Linked DNA regions of Homo sapiens. The protein of the gene in region 4 purifies or fractionates together with the protein of the main gene of each other region. This does not show direct contact. Each region holds a gene or a part of one and is shown on either strand. Other genes may lie near its edges. The genes, in order: KLHL36, CNIH4, CLPTM1 and SLC6A17.

Evidence for each region.
Region 1: the proteins of SLC6A17 (region 4) and KLHL36 purify together in Homo sapiens (affinity purification with mass spectrometry; one large-scale study listed by BioGRID and IntAct). This does not show direct contact.
Region 2: the proteins of SLC6A17 (region 4) and CNIH4 purify together in Homo sapiens (affinity purification with mass spectrometry; one large-scale study listed by BioGRID and IntAct). This does not show direct contact.
Region 3: the proteins of SLC6A17 (region 4) and CLPTM1 purify together in Homo sapiens (affinity purification with mass spectrometry; one large-scale study listed by BioGRID and IntAct). This does not show direct contact.

What each region holds. Positions count from the first base shown.
Region 1 is NC_000016.10:84,650,955-84,655,010, forward strand, and holds part of KLHL36 (kelch-like protein 36), read left to right. Parts: intron 1-4,056.
Region 2 is NC_000001.11:224,359,375-224,363,599, forward strand, and holds part of CNIH4 (protein cornichon homolog 4), read left to right. Parts: intron 1-1,120; coding exon 1,121-1,189; intron 1,190-4,225. UniProt on the Homo sapiens protein: Involved in G protein-coupled receptors (GPCRs) trafficking from the endoplasmic reticulum to the cell surface; it promotes the exit of GPCRs from the early secretory pathway, likely through interaction with the COPII machinery.
Region 3 is NC_000019.10:44,975,314-44,979,538, forward strand, and holds part of CLPTM1 (putative lipid scramblase CLPTM1), read left to right. Parts: intron 1-2,029; coding exon 2,030-2,147; intron 2,148-4,225. UniProt on the Homo sapiens protein: Involved in GABAergic but not glutamatergic transmission. Binds and traps GABAA receptors in the endoplasmic reticulum (ER).
Region 4 is NC_000001.11:110,191,595-110,195,819, forward strand, and holds part of SLC6A17 (sodium-dependent neutral amino acid transporter SLC6A17), read left to right. Parts: intron 1-377; coding exon 378-619; intron 620-911; coding exon 912-1,104; intron 1,105-2,984; coding exon 2,985-3,177; intron 3,178-3,991; coding exon 3,992-4,151; intron 4,152-4,225. UniProt on the Homo sapiens protein: Synaptic vesicle transporter with apparent selectivity for neutral amino acids.

The DNA.
Region 1 (4,056 bases), on a different chromosome or scaffold from region 4:
TATGCAAATTGCCTAAGAAGTGTGATCCTTTTTCTGATTCACTCATTTCTAATCACAGACTGATTTTTTTGTCATTGGTGTTGTCAGTCTCCTTAATGACAAGTAAAGGTGGAAACGGGCAAGGAGCAGAAATTGTCATAAAATCAGACAGTGGGAAGTATGAGGGATGGTAGAGACGCTATGGCCAGATGTCTTCATTTTTCCATGTGACATTCCGGAGCTTTCTTTTTGTGACAACTTGACTCATTCGTTAACCCAAGGAGGTGGATGGGACAGGAAGAAAACTGGGATTCCCATGCCTGCTTGGGGGCTCAAAAACTCCAAGGACAGGTCCATTGAGAACCCAGCCTTCTACCTTAGGGTGAGGGCAACACACCGTGTACCCGGACCCCAAGGGCCTGGAGTCGTCTTCCCTGGTCATGATTCCCTGCGACCTAAGAGCAAGTGAGGGCAAGTTCCCCAGAGCCAGGCTACTGGGGGAGTTCTAATTAGAAATATGTAGCCTGTTCCCACCAGCCACATTAAAATCCAAGAGCCAGACCCGGCTGCTATACTTTCCACAAACTCCTGTCCCCACAGCTGCTGTTGGTAAAGAGTGGGGGAGCCATTGGTATGAGGTTCCTGGTAACCTGTTTCCCCGTTATAAATATTCGTAATGCCCTCTGTTCTTTAGAGGTATCCCTTTTGGAGATTAAATCTTATGGTTACCTCAGATCATGGATTCTCAATGAGTATGATATTGCCCTGAAGTGGGAGAAAATTGGTTCTCGGGAGGGTGGAAGGAATTTTACTCCTTTTATGCATAAGACACAATTATACATACAGTACATGAGCAGACATACAGTGCATCTGTGATGTTAAGATTTTGCTGGGGAGGCTATTAGGGAAAAAAATCTTAAAAGCCTTCTTGTGGGGCAATAATGAAAAAAGATACAGAAACACTTCTTTAGATGAAGGGAGCTGGCAGCAGCCTATAGAGTTGAGAAAAAGGGGGAAAGAGATTCTACAGATTCTAAAAGAAAAACTGGCTGTCATTTTCAAGAGAGGTTGGCTCTCTTGAGATATGACCTCCTGTTCTCACGTGAGTTCCCCAAGAAGGTTCCTGCCAAGCCCAGCTTTATCGATTGTGAAAACCCAGAGAGGTCTCGCCGCTCGCTCACAAGGGCTTTGTTTGGGAGCTTAGCTTGGGAGACACTGCTGCTTTCTAAGTTTGACAGCACTGGAAGTCTTTGTCCATTAATGCCAGGACCCTGAGTTTGTTTCTGTCTGAACTGAATCTCTTAGGACTAGGCTTCTGTATCACTGGATGATGTTTCTAACTTTTTTTTTTTTTCGAGACAGGGTCTTGCTCTGTCACTTAGGTTGGAGTACAGTGGTGCGATCATAGCTCACTGCAGCCTCTACCTCCTGGGCTCAAGTGAGCCTCCCACCTCAGCCTCCTGAGGAGCTGGGAATACAGGTGCATGCCACCATGCCCAGCTAATTTTTGTATTTTTAGTAGAGACGGGGTTTCACCATGTTGGCCAGGATGGTCTTGATCTCTTGACCTCGTGACCCGCCAGCCTTGGCCTCCCAAAGTGCTGGGATTACAGGCGCGAGCCACCATGACTGGCCTGTTTCTAACTTTTTATTTTTAAAAAGTGTACCCATTAATTTCTAGACATTAAACACACCTATGTTGCCAGCACCCAGATGGGTAAAAAACAGAATACTACCAAACCCTCCCAGTTGTTACACTCAAGATAGTCGCTGTCCCAACCCCACCGCTGTGGTTTGATCTGCTTTTGAACTTTGTCTAAACGGGATCCGAGGTCGGGTACTCTTGTGTGTGGTTTCTTTTGTGCAACATTGTGCCTCTGAGCCTCACCCGTGTTGCTGCATGTAGTTGGTAGTGGTAGGTTTTGCTTTCTCAGCATGTTGGTGTCTTCCCACTGTGTGGCCACAGTGTCTGTTCACCTGTCTGCCCTAAGATGTGTTGCTCAGCCAGGCACAGTGGCTCACGCCTGTAATCCCAGCACCCTGGGAGGCCGAGGCGGGAGGATCTCGTAAGCTCGGAGTTTGAGACCAGCTTGGACAACACGGCTAAACCTCATCTCTACAAAAGATACAAAAATTAGCCGAGCCTGGTGGCATACACCTGTAGTCCCAGCTCCTCAGGAGGCCGAGGTGGGAGGCTCACTTGAGCCCAGGAGGTAGAGGTTGCAGTGAGCTATGATCGCACCACTGTACTCCAACCTAAGTGACAGAGCGAGACCCTGTCTCAAAAAAAAAAAGTGTTGTTCCTTTTTGATGCTAAATTCTTTTTCCACGTCTAATACCTGGTACCTGCCGCCTCCTCCCAGGTGTAAGCCCCCGACAACCTGAGTTTCTCCCTCTACTTGGCCTTGCATCTGATTAAGGCACTGAAATAGGAAATAAAGAAATGAACAAGACTCATATCATCAGAGAATGCTGTGGATTGGAGCTTCTAAGTTACCTGAAATGCGGAAACTCTGTTACCAATGTCCCTTTATAATTGGGAAATAGGCCAGGCGCAGTGGCTCACGCCTGGAATCCTAGAACTTTGGGAGGCTGAGGTGGATGGATCACTTGAAGTCAGGAGTTCGAGGCCAACATGGTGAAACCCCGTCTCTACTGATATATGTATATATGCCGGGAGTGGTGGCACCTGAGGTCAGGAGTTTAAGACCAGCCTGGCCAAAATGGCAAAACCCTGTCTCTACTAAAAAGACAAAATTAGCTGGGCATGGTGGTACATGCCGGTAGTCCCAGCTACTCAGGAGGCTGAGGCAGGAGAATCGCCTGAACCTGGGAGGCGGAGGTTGCAGTGAGCCGAGATCGAGCCACTGCACTCCAGCCTGGGCAACAGAGGGAGGCTCTGTATCCAAAAAAAAAAAAAAAAAAAGGGAACTCGTGTGCCTGTGTTTTTGGAAAGTTGTCTATGCAGCTGTGCTAAAACACCAGAAGCAGATTGCAGCTGATTGTACCCGGGTACAGCATCACTCCAGCCCACTTAGAGCAGAAACCCAGTTTTGGAAACAACACTGCTCTTGCCCCCTGCCCCAGCTCACTGGAGCTGGTGTCTCCCCTCGGCAGCCGTTCACTGGGGCTTTCCCCAGTCCTGCCCCCTGGGCTCTTTCCCTTTTGACACTGCAGTCTGGGGTTGTGTGTATCTCCGTCTAAGCATGGTAGGGCCAGCACCCTCACCAGCGTGGAGACAGCCAGGGTCCCCGGGTGGCAGATAGCCGCCTCATGCCCTCATATGCGTCTCTCAGGCCGCTAAGCCTGTACTATGACTTGATCACCGCCACTGTAGTACTTTTTAATTTCCTTCCTTCAGCTCACACCCAAGAGGGGCCTCCAGTCAATGTCTGTAGAAGCACTGACCATTCCTGCATAATTAGAAGCTGAGGCCTAGCACGGTGGCTTATACCTGTAATCCCAGCACATTGGGAGGCTGAGGCAGGAGGATCGTTTGAACTCAGGAGCTGAAGACCAGCCTGGGCAATGTAGTGAGACCCCATTTCTACAAAAAATAAAAGTAAAAAATAGCTGGATATGGTGGCACACACCTGTAGTCCCAGCTGCCAAGGAAGCTGAAGTGGAGGGATTGCTTGAGACTAGTTTTGTTTTGTTTTGTTTTGTTTTGTTTTGTTTTGTTTTGTTTTGTTTTGTTTTGTTTTTGAGATGGCGTTTTGTTCGTGTTGCCCAGGCTGGAGTGCAGTGGCTCACTGCAACCTCCGCCTCCGGAGTGCAAGTGATTCTCCTGCGTCAGCCTCCTGAGTAGCTAGGATGACAGGCGCCCGCCACCACAACCAGCTAATTTTGTATTTTTACTAGAGACGGGGTTTCACCATGTTGGTCAGGCTGGTCTCGAACTCCTGACCTCAGGTGACCTGCCCACCTCGGCCTCCCAAAGTACTGGGATTCCAGGCATGAGCCACCACGCCCGGCTGAGCCTAGGAGTTTCAGGCCGCAGTGATCTCTGATCTACTGTTGCATGCCAGCCTGGGAAACAGAGCAAGACCCTGTTTCTAAAAATGAGAAAAAATTTAA
Region 2 (4,225 bases), about 110 Mb from region 4:
GGAGGGAATATGTGAGTAGTATTTAGAAGAAATGATTGCCAGGACCTACAAATGAGTGATTATGATATATGAAACAGAAGGCAGAGATAGCTTTCCATATTTTGATCCTGGGCAAGTGATACTTGTGTCAGTAACAGAAATAAAACAAATTGGAGGAAGATCAATCTGTGGAGAAAGTGATGAGTTTGACTTTATTTTATTTTCATGTTTATTTTTGAGACAGAGTCTCACTGTCACCCAGGCTGGAGTGCAGTGGCGCAATCTTGGCTTACTGCTGCCTCCATCTCCTGGGTTCAAGCGATTCTCCTGCCTCAGCCTCTCAAGTAACTGAGACTACAAGTGCCTACCAAATCTGCTGCTCAGACTGGAGCGCACTGGTGTGATTATAGCTCAGTGTAACGTGAATCCTGGGCTCTAGGCATTTTGCTGCCTCACCTTAGCAGTACTGCTACTAATAGCTAGCATTACAGGTGCTCATGCCCGGCTAATGAAAAAAAAAGAAAAAATTTGTAGAGATGGGGGTGAGGTGAGTGAATCACTTGAAGCCAGGAGTTCGAGACCAGCCTGGCTAACATAGTGAAACCCCGTCTCTACTAAAAATACAAAAAATTAGCTGGGTGTGGTGGTGGCGCGCACCTATAGTTCCAGCTACTTGGAAGGCTGAGGCACAAGAATTGCTTGAACCCAGGAGGCAGGGGTAGCAGTGCGTTGGAATTGCGCCACTGCACTACAGCCTGGGTGAAAGAGATGGAGGCTTGCTATGTTGCCTATGCTGATCTTGAACTCCTGCTTCAGGCGATCCTCCTGCCTCAGCTTCCCAAAGTGCTGGGATATTTCCCATTTTTTTTTTTTTAATAGCCATTGTTTTACATTTGAAGAACTCAAACTAAATGTTCTGGTTGGGTCAGATTAGATTTGAGCAAAATAGGATTATTTTGTAAAATAATTTGTTGAAGGAACATGAATGGGAAAATTGAGTTGTCTAATGAGCAAACTTTAGGAAACAACTCATTTTTTTCAAGTCAAATCTAATTCTGCCTTGTAACTGGGATTGCTTTCTGAAACTTAAATACTTAGTTATTATAAAAGAAATATAATAATTCCTTATCTTGATCATCAGATAATTACATTGTCTGATTTAGAATGTGATTACATTAATGCTAGATCATGTTGCTCAAAATTAAACAAGGTAAGACATTTCTTTGCTCATTCTCTGGCATTGAAGCCAGGTCATTTTCCATACTTAAGATTATTATAGATAACAGATGTATTTTTGATTTTAGAGTACATGTTGTCTCTTATTCATTGGAAATTTGATGGAACTGCTGTGTTTTACAATATTTTAGATCATGAAATTATGCTAGAAGATCTGACTTGAAATTTTGTTTCTTTATATGTTGCTTGTCTCTTGTTTACAGCGGATAGCATCTTTACTCAGAGTAGGGAAATGTTCATCATGAGGGTAATTGTTTTTGTCTTCTGCGTTGGAACTCCCTCCTCCCACTCACGGAAAAAAGCTCAAGTCTGTCTTTGGTTGAATGAAAGAAGACCTTTCTTGTGTAGTTTACCGAGAAAATAATTTTTTTTTAATGTATGACTCTTTATTTATTTATTTATTTATTGAGAGAGAAGGTTTCTTGCAGTGGTGATCAGGCTATTCTTGAATTCCTAGGCTCAAGTGATCTGCCTCGGCCTTCTGAGTAGCTGGGACTACAGGCGCATGCCACCATGCCTGGCTAATTTTTTTTTTTTTTTTTTTGAGATGGAGTCTCACTCTGTCACCCAGGCCGGAGTGCAGTGGTGTGATCTGGACTCACTGCAGCCTCTGCCTCCCAGGTTCAAGCGTTTCTCCTGCCTCAGCCTCCCAAGTAGCTGGGATTACAGGCACTGCCACCACACCTGGCTAATTTTTTTTGTATTTTTCATAGAGATGGGGTTTCACCATGTTGGCCAGGCTGGTTTCAAACTCCTGACCTCAAGTGATTCGCCTGCCTCAGCCTCCCAAAGTGTTAGGATTATAGGTGTGAGCCACCGTGCCCAGCCACCTGGCTAATTTTTAAATTTTTTTGTAGACTGGGTCTTGCTATGTGATCTAGACTGGCTTTGAACTCCTGGCCTTAAGCAATCCTGCTGTCTTGGCAAAGTGCTGGGATTACAGGTGTCAGCCACCATGCCTGGCCTAAGCTCCATATTTTAAAAATTTTCATAAATTTTGTTTGATTGTTTGAGGCAGAGTCTCACTCTGTTGCCCAGGCTGGAGTGCAGTGATGCGATCATGGCTCACTGCAGCCTTGACCTCCTAGGCTCAAGCGATCCTTCCACCTCAGCCTCCCATGTAGGTGGGACTACAGGTGTGTGCCACCATACCTGGCTGATTTTTAAAATTTTTTTGTAGAGACAGGGTTTCACTATGTTGCCCAGGCTGGTCTGAAATTCCTAGGCTCAAGTGATCTGCCCTCTTTGGCCTCCCAAAGTGTTAGGATTACAGTTGTGAGCCACTGCGCCCAGCCTCATGTAGCTTCTTGAGATAAGGTAACTGCCAATTAAATTTTGAGGCCTTCCATGTTTGAAAATGTCTTATCTTTACACTTGATTCATAGTTGTCAGAGTACAGGGTTCTAGGCTGGAAAAGATTTTTCTTTCAGAATTTTAAAGACACCCCTTGGTGGTCTTCTGACTTCCAGTGGTTCAAGTTGGGAAGTACCATGCCATTTTTTTTTTTTTGAGACGGAGTCTCACTCTGTTGCCTAAGCTGGAGTGCAGTGGTGCGATCTTGGCTCACTGCAAGCTCTGCCTCCCGGGTTCATGCTATTCTCCTGCCTCAGCCTCCCAAGTAACTGGGACTACAGGCGCCCACCACCACGCCCGGCTAATTTTTTTGTATTTTTTAGTGGAGACGGGGTTTCACCGTGTTAGCCAGGATGGTCTCAATCTCCTGACCTCATGATCTGCCCGCCTCAGCCTCCCAAAGAATTTCTCATCTATTCTATATGATTCTCATTCTCATTCTCTCTCTCTCTCTCTCTTTCTCTCTTTTCCTGTCCTCTATGGGAAAGTTTTAGAATCTTTATCCTTGGTGTTTTGAAATTTTACAGTGCTGTATCGCTGTGTACTTTTTTTTTTTTTTTTTTTTGAGACGGAGTCTTGCTCTGTGGCCCAGACTAGATTGCAGTGGCGTGATCTCAGCTCACTGCAAGCTCTACCTCCCCGGTTCACGCCATTCTCCCGCTTCAGCCTCCCGAGTAGCTGGGACTACAGGCGCCTGCCACCATGCCTGGCTAATTTTGTTTTTGTATTTTTAATAGAGACAGGGTTTCACCATGTTAGCCAGGATGGTCTTGATCTCCTGACCTCGTAATCTGCCCAAAGTGCTGGGATTACAGGCATGAGCCACTGTGCCTGGCCCTCTGTGTACTTTTTAAAAGGCCTTTCTTGTTTGTTTTGGACATCTGATAGGCTCTTTCAATATGGGAAATTTTCTTGTATTCTTTCTTTGATGTTTCTTCCCCATCTTTTTTCCCTCCTTCTCTTCCTACAACATCCACTAACTAGACAATTGATCTGCTGGATTGATCTGCCAATTTTTCCTTTTTCTTAGTTTTATCTCTTTGATTTTTTTTCTGCTGTTTTTATTATTTCCCTTGCTTTTTCTTCTGAATTTTCTTTTTTTCTTTTTTCTTTCTTTTTGAGATGGAGTTTTGCACTTGTTGTCTAGGCTGGAGTGCAGTGGTGCTATCTTGGCTCACTGACACCTCCAACTCCTGGGTTTAAACAATTCTTGTGCCTCAGCCTCCTGAGTAGCTGGGATTACAGGGGTGTGCCACCATGCTGGCTAATTTTTGTATTTTTAATAGAGATGAAGTCTCGCCACGTTGGCCAGGCTGGTCTCCGACTCCTGACATCAGGTGATCTGCTCTCCTCGGCCTCCCAAAGTGCTGGGATTACAGGCATGAGCCACTGCACCCAGCCTTCTTTTGAATTTTCTAACAAATGTAGCATTTATGCTAAAATGATGATTTTTAAGAGGTTTTTATTCTCTTGGTTCATGTTTGACTCCTAGTTCTCTGCGAATACTGATTATAGTATTTTTCTATTTTTTATTAAAGATAGGGTCTTTTTCTCTCATCCAGGCTGAAGTACAGTGGCACAATCATATTTCATTGCAGCCTTGAATTTCTAGGCTCAAGCAATCCTCCCGCCTTAGTGTCCCAAGTAGCTGGGACTG
Region 3 (4,225 bases), on a different chromosome or scaffold from region 4:
GGGCTGCCTAGATCACTTCCATGTCCCCAGCACTGCCCAACGTGGGGCTGGGTGCAGAATCAGCAAGTATTGAACAAGTAAAAGGGACATCTCTCTTTGGGGCCTTCTTCGGCTGAGTCCAAGACAGCTGCCCTCATTCCTTTCTCCCCAGCAGGCCTTCTCAGCTTTGGGGTGGAGGGCACATTTCTGTTCTATTTCTGTCTGGGTAGCTAGAAGCAGAATGTGGACACAGTCATTCTGGTTTTTTTTTTTGTTTTTTGTTTTTTTTTGAGACAGCGTCTCGCTCTGTCACCCAGTCTGGAGGGCAGTGGCGCAACCTTGGCTCACTGCAACTTCACCTCCCAGGTTCAAGCGATTCTCATGTGCCAGCCTCCTGAGTAGCTGGGACTAAGGCACACATGATCACACCCAGCTAATTTTTTTATTTTTTAGTAGAGACAAGGTTTCACTATGTTGGCCAGGTTGGCCTTGAACTCCTGACCTCAAGTGATCCACCTACCTTGGTCTCCCAAAGTGCTGGGATTACAGGCGTGAGACACCGCGTCCAGCCATCATTCTTTTCTTTTTGAGATGGGGTCTTGCTCTGTTGCCTAGGCTGAAGTGCAGTGGTGCAATTACAGCTCACTGCAGCCTCAACCTCCTGGGCTCAAGCAATCTTTTCACCTCAGCCTCCCAAGTAGCTGGGACAACAGGCATGCACCACCATGCCCAGCTAATTTTTTGTAGAGATGGGGTCTCAACATGTTTCCCAGGCTGGTCTCAAACTCCTCTGCTCAAGCGATCCTCTCACCTCAGCCTCTCAAAGTGCTGGAATTACAGGCATGAACCACCCCACCTGGCTGGACTTTCTGACCTGCACTGAGAGGTGACTCCCACAGAGACCTCAAGCCCAGCCCCCAGGCCTTGCCACGAGATCCAAGGAAGGACCAGGGCCTGGCAGGCCCAGCAGGGGGATCTGCTTCCAAGGGCTTGGATCTAAGTCGAAGCTTCAGGGTGGGGTCCAAGTGGACTTAAAAGGCAGGAGAGCTGGGCACAGTGGCATGTGCCTGTAGGCACAGCTACTCAGGAGGCTGAGGTGGGAGAATGGCCAGAGCCCAGGAGTTTAAGACTGTAGTGTGCCATGATCGCAACTGCAAATAGCCAGTGCACTCCAGCCTGGGCAACACAGGAAGACCCCATCTCTAAAAAAGATAGGGAGAGTGAGGAGAACACAATGTGGCCAACTGAATTCGAGCTCTGCACAAGGATCAGAGAGGTTCAGTGCTCGCCTTTGTCTCCACCCAGTGCCCCTGGACAACTTGCCTCCCTTCTTGAAGCCTCAGTTTCCTCATCTGGATCAAGTGAGAATAGTCCCCCTTCCCTGGGAGGCAAGGAGACTTGATGAGATAATGAGGAAGACTTGGGCAGAGAGGGGCCAGCTGGAGGTAGCAGGGAGTAGCACCCAGGAGCCCACAGACTGGGTTTCCATCTGCGTACTTGCCACACACTATGTGACCCCTTGGCATGAGCCCCGTTTGCCTCATCTGCAAAATGGGGTGGTAACATGACCCATTGCATAAGGTTGACATGTTATATGTGTGTTAACTCGTTAGATTAGGAAGCTGTTGTCTGAAGTGCCCAGGGCAGGGTCTGGCCCATAGTAGGAGCTCCATGTCGGTCAGCTGCTTCTTCCTGTTGAGTGAGCTTAACGAGAGCTCGTTGACTGAGCTGTGTGCCAGTGCTCCAGGTAGTCCCTGCAGTGGTGCCCTCGGGTCAGTGCTGTGGGAACTTCGCATCCTCTAGGTGGGGCCCTGAGGCTCAGAGAGAAGCTGAGCTCACACGGCCATGGCAGGTAGAGCGGGCGTCTGAGTCTGTCTGACTCCAGCATTTACCTCTCTGCCACCCAGCTACATGCCCCACCCTGAGTACTCAGTAAATGGCCAGAGAGTTGAGGGGGAGGAAACTGCTGCAGATGGGTGCCAGGCAGGGCTTTAACGTTTCCCTCACCCCAGTTGCCCAGCCTGCCCACCTGACCTTCCGTCTTTTGCAGAGCGTCCAGCAGAACGGCTCCATCTACATCCACGTTTACTTCACCAAGAGTGGCTTCCACCCAGACCCCCGGCAGAAGGCCCTGTACCGCCGGCTTGCCACAGTCCACATGTCCCGGAGTAAGTCGCTCCCCTGCAGCCAGGACCCACTGTCCAGGAGGCCAGCATCCTGGGAGCCCCCAGGCTAATGTGGCGGACAAATCCCAAGTCCAGGAGGGCAGGCAGGAAGCCTGTGCTCAAAGAGGGTGGGATTGGCAGGGCAGGCTCAAGCCCCACCCAGCCTGAAAGAGCCCTGTGGACACTAAGCAGGGATACCCACGGAGGAAGGGAGACCCACGGAGGCTCAGGGACCAGAGAGAAATTGGCCAGAAAAAGCAGCTGGAGACAGGGACTCTTGGAGAGGAGGAGACGTCCTTCACCAAGGGGGAAGGGCCAGGGTTGACTTTTGCACAGTAGGGGCCTGATAGAAGTAGACACTCAAAAATAATTTGTGGGCTGGGTGCAGTGGTTCATGCCTGTAATCCTAGCACTTTGGGAGACAAGGTGGGCAGATTGCTTGAGCCCAGGAGTTTGAGACCAGCCTGGGAAACATGACAAAACCCTGTCTCTACCAAAAAAGACACAAAAACTAGCTGGGCGTGTGCCTGTAGTCCCAGCTGCTCAGGAGGCTGAGGTGGGAGGATCGCTTGAGCCCAGGAGGTGGAGGTTGCAGTGAGCCAGAATCACACCACTGCACTCCAGCCTGGGTGACAGACCGAGAACCTGTCTCAAAAAGATAGATAGAGGCCGGGCACAGTGGCTCACGCCTGTAATCCCAGGACTTTGGGAGGCCGAGGCGGGTGAATCACAAGGTCAAGAGATAGAGACCATCCTGGCCAACACGGTGAAACCCCGTCTCTACTAAAAATACAAAAATTAGCTGGGTGTAGTAGCATGCTCCTGTAGTCCCAGCTACTTGGGAGGCTGAGGCAGGAGAATCGCTTGAATCCAGGAGGCGGAGGTTGCATTGAGCTGAGATCACGCCATTGCACTCCAGCCTGGTGACACAGCAAGACTCCGTCTCCGTCTCAAAAAAAAAAAAAATAGATAAAATTCAAAGAACAGTGTGGGCAACATAATGAGACTTCGTTGCTACAAAAATTAATAGCCAGGTATGGTGGTGAGCACCTGTGGTTCCAGCTACATGGGAGGCTGAGGTGGGAGGATCGCTTGAACCTGGGAGGTCAAGGATGCAGTGAGCTGTGATTGCACTACAGCTTTCCAGCCTGGGCGACAGAGCAAGTCCACGTCTCTGAAAAAACAATAGTAATAAAAAATAAGACTACCACTTCTACTCCCATGATAACTCATTAATCCATTAAACCACTAATCCATGAATGGGTTAATCAGTTCCTGAGGGGAGGGTCCTCATGACCCAGTCACCTCTTAAAAGCCTCATCTCTCAGTACTGGCACATTGGGGATTAAGTTTCACTGGGAGTGGGGAGTACTAGAGTACATCAGTAGTCCCAGCTACTTGGGAGGCTGAGGTGGGAGAATCAGCATGAGTTTTGGCCAGGACAAACATTCAAACCATAGCATTGTCCGTCCTCTTGTTTTCGAGAAGTTAATAATTGTTGTCATCTTTCTGCTTGCCTGGCTCTTTTTTTTTTTTTTTTTGAGACAGGGTCTCACTATGTCGCCCAGGCTGGAGTGCAGTGGACTATCTCAGCTCACCACAATTTCCACCTCCCAAGTTCAAGCGATTCTCCCACCTTAGCCTCCAAAATAGCTGGGACTACAGGCACACGCCACTACGCCCGGCTAGTTTTTGTATTTTTAGTAGAGACGGGGTTTCGCCATGTTGGCCAGGCTGGTCTCAAACTCCTGACCTCAAGTGATCGTCTGCCTCGGCCTCCCAAAGTGCTGGGATTACAGGTGTGAGCTGCCACACCCAGCCTTGCTTGGTTCTCTGTGAGCTTTTTCCCTGAGTCCTCTGTCTCCTGATGGGCAGCCGTAGAAATCTCTTGCTGTACCTGTTTGAGCGGAGCTGGAGAATGGCTTCCTCAGAAAGCCCCCCATTCTTCTAACGGGAGTTCTGTGTACTCCACCTAGCTTTCACTTTATTGAGGACTATTCCAGACATTCCCTGTGGATTTGGTTAAGATCCATCTGGCTGGTTTTGGGTGGCGCAGCAACAGACAGAATTCTATTTGTATG
Region 4 (4,225 bases):
ACACTGTAGTCCAAGTGAATGGCACTCTCTAGAGCTGTGTACTACATGACCATATGTGATGGCCTTGACGATGTTCCTTAGTATGATGGCTGCATGGGAAGCCATGGTAGCAGTTAAATTACTATGTAAGCACTCAGCATTTATGTTGTCTTACCAAGTCCTCACAGTCATCCTCTGAAGTTGATACTCTTGTGATCTGCGTATTGGGGAAACTGAGGCTCAGAGGAGTAGGGAAATTGCCCAAGTTCACACAGCTTCTTACCACTATGGGCTGCTGCCTCTGAACTCTGTTGAGGCTGAGAAAGGGGGTGTGCACATGAATAAAACCATCCCCTCTGTGTCTCTTTTCTTCCTCCTGCCTTGGTCTTCTGCCATAGCTGGACAAGATGCTGGACCCCCAGGTGTGGCGGGAGGCAGCTACCCAGGTCTTCTTTGCCTTGGGCCTGGGCTTTGGTGGTGTCATTGCCTTCTCCAGCTACAATAAGCAGGACAACAACTGCCACTTCGATGCCGCCCTGGTGTCCTTCATCAACTTCTTCACGTCAGTGTTGGCCACCCTCGTGGTGTTTGCTGTGCTGGGCTTCAAGGCCAACATCATGAATGAGAAGTGTGTGGTCGAGTAGGTGGCATCTCTCCTCCTGTCCCTCCTTCTCCCTGTCTACCTTACCTGGGAGTGGGCAGGGGTGGGGGCGCAGGTGTGCATGGGGAGAGAGGTCCCCTCCACTCAGACTGAGGAATGGAGATCAGAGGAGCACTCTCTGTCCCCAGCTCCGGGCCACAGGGACAAGCTCAGAGATGCCTCTGTCAGTGACCCATGAGGTTCCCACCTGGGTGCCTGGGAAGAGCCTCCAGGATCTCACCCATTGCCCACCCCTGCCTTCTTACCTGGTCCTCTCGGTTTTGTGCTGCAGGAATGCTGAGAAAATCCTAGGGTACCTTAACACCAACGTCCTGAGCCGGGACCTCATCCCACCCCACGTCAACTTCTCCCACCTGACCACAAAGGACTACATGGAGATGTACAATGTCATCATGACCGTGAAGGAGGACCAGTTCTCAGCCCTGGGCCTTGACCCCTGCCTTCTGGAGGACGAGCTGGACAAGGTGCGGGGACAGGCTGCCCTTCCCAGGACAGGCAGGAACCCAGAGAGCAGCTGTGGCCGGCGGGAGCTTGGGCTCAGGCCTCAGGATGCTGACAGGTAGTCATTAGTTTACTTGGTAAGCAAGGATCTGCTGTGTGTCCAGAGGGAGTGAAAGGGAAGAAAGGTATTGGCCAAAGTCCCTGCCCAGAGGTAGGCTTGAGCCTAGACAAGAAGTAGGGCAGACACACACCTCTCAGAAGTCACAGTAAGTGTATGGGACGATGTTTCCATTTACTGAGTGGGCTTCTCGTGCATCAGTCACTGCCACAGGTAATATACTCAGAACAGTGCCTTGACATGGTGTGCATCAAAGAAGTGTTGAAGTTAGTGTTTGCCCGTTGCTGTCTATCTCTTTTGACGCTCAAGACAGCTCTATGAGTTGAGTATTCATATTGTTCCCTACCTTACAGATGAGTAGCCTATGAGATGGGGGGCTTGATCAAGGTCTCATAACTAGTAAGTCAGAGAGGCAGTTAGTTGGGTCCAAATCCAGTTAGTTGGGTCCAGAGCCCATGCTCAGGATCACCTCTTGATGCTTCTGCCCCTCCCCAACCTGTCCCCATTCCAATCTCACTGCCATGATGACTCTTAGACTTTAGGGTGGTGCTGGGGGTGCTGACTCCTCCTCAGTGCTCAGGCCCATGTTAGGACACCTTGCTTCTATTTATACTTACATAGCTGGACACTTTCAAAATGACTGTTCTGTTAGAAGGGGTAACAGGAAAGGGACATACCCACAGCATCTTGGGAACCAGGCTGGAGCCAAGGCTCACATGGGGCGGAGCCAGCTCCCATCAGCCTGGGTCAACCCTGTCCTTCATGGGACTGGGGAAGGGGGTGCTTTCCCTGGGCTCTATGTTAAAAGTCAGCTCCATTGGATGGTACCATCCTAATGCTGAGGGAGCTGCATCCTACACCCCAACCCTTTCCCTGCGGATCAAGAGCAAAAGAGCCCAATCTCGGGCCCACTGCCCTGGTTTCTTCCCCAGGTAACTGGCAGCATAAAGGACCTCCCCTTTTCACATTCTCTGAAACCCTGCTCAGTTCTCATGGGCATGGCCTGGTTCTCTGAATTAAACTAGGTTTATAGCAGTGTTTTCATACAATACAACTCCGATAGCATTCAAATGACAAGATTATACACTCACTTAGTGGGGAAGAAATGTTCCCTTACAATCACTGAACATTACAGGGCAACGTGTAAGTGACAGGGGGCAGTGTGTGGTCACCTGACCCACAAGCATGGCCCAAGCATTAAAGCAGTGATTCTCTACCTTGGCTACCCATTAGAGTTCCTGGGGTATTTTTGTTTGTTTTAAAAAAAAACTCTGACACCCAGCTTCACCCCAGACCAATCCAGTCATTGTCCGTGGGGTGAGACCCAGGTGTCGGTGTTTCTAAAGGCTCCGGTGTGCTTCCATTGAGAGCCGAGGCTGAGACCACTGCATGAAGATCTGCAGTTCAGAAGTTCTGAGCTGGGAGCGGCCACAGTGTGGCTGGAGCAATCAGGAAAGACATCTTAGAGGAGCAGGGTCCTGAGCTGGGTGTATTTCTAAACATGAGCATCTTCACTTGAATCACCTAAGCTCCTGGTACAACCCGTAGATTCCAGGTCCCACAGGTGAACTCCCAAGTTGGTGTTTTTGAGCTACGTCTAGGGGATTCCAATGCCTGCTAAAGTTCGAGACCCACTGGCCAAAATCAACAGGATTTAGGTGGAGGTGGGAACCCCTGTGAAAGAGGGAATAGTTATTCCAAAAGTTTGAAGGGCAGAGGGAAGGAAGCAGTGGGCTCCCCAGGGAGGGGTGACCTCACAGGCCCTGCTTTCCACCCCACCTTCAGTCCGTGCAGGGCACAGGCCTGGCCTTCATCGCCTTCACTGAGGCCATGACGCACTTCCCCGCCTCCCCGTTCTGGTCCGTCATGTTCTTCTTGATGCTTATCAACCTGGGCCTGGGCAGCATGATCGGGACCATGGCAGGCATCACCACGCCCATCATCGACACCTTCAAGGTGCCCAAGGAGATGTTCACAGGTAACTCCTCCCTGCCCCCATGCCCAGGCTCTGCAGGCTGCCCTTGTGGACAACAATTCCGTTCTGGCTTCTGACTGGGTCCTTCATGACCCCACACCCAGAAGGCTCCACCCCACACTGGGACACAGCTGGAGCCTGGCTGTGCCACTCAGTGATTAGCACTCACAAGCCAGGAAGAGAAAGCTACTTGGAAATCTGGAGCAAACATGAGCCGGGAGGCCTGCATCTAGGCCCCTTTGTTAGTTCACTTGCCCCTCTCCCCAAGGGCCTGCTGAGTCGTCTTGGGAAGTGGGTGCTGAGTCGTCTTGGGCAGGGGCACTCACTGGCCTTGCGCCCTGTTCCATCTTTGTCACTCCAGTCCCGGGCTGTGTCCACAGTTCCCTTCGGGGTTTGCTGCGTTGATCTAGGGCCCATAGAGGGATACCTCTCATCTGCATCCCTAAAGCGGGGTATCTTTCTGTTCTCAAGTGGGGAAACTGAGGTGGAGAAAAAGACTGGTAACAATCAGATGAATCATTTAAGTTAAATACAGCAATTAAGTAGCGCACCTGCCACGGGCCAGGCCCTGTGCTGGGGCAGAGGCATGGGATGAAAGTTAGACACAACGCCTTCCTCAGGTGCTCCCCGACTAGTAGAGCGGGGCTCAGAACCTGAGCATCTGGATCCCTCGTGCAGGACTGAGCCTGCTGGCAGGAGGGCTGCAGGCATGCTTTGGGGAGGGATGTGATGGGAGGGGCCTGGGTGCCCCCGAGACCCCCAGGGCCCTGCCCACCCTGCACCTTTGCCCCCAAACCGGCCTCCCGGCTCTCTGTAGTGGGCTGCTGTGTCTTTGCATTCCTCGTGGGGCTGTTGTTCGTCCAGCGCTCCGGAAACTACTTTGTCACCATGTTCGATGACTACTCGGCCACCCTGCCACTCACTCTCATCGTCATCCTTGAGAACATCGCTGTGGCCTGGATTTATGGAACCAAGAAGTAAGAGGAACATGGGGGAAAGGTGGGATGGGAGGAGGGGTCTGTCCTATCATGACTCCCTGGAGAGGCAGATC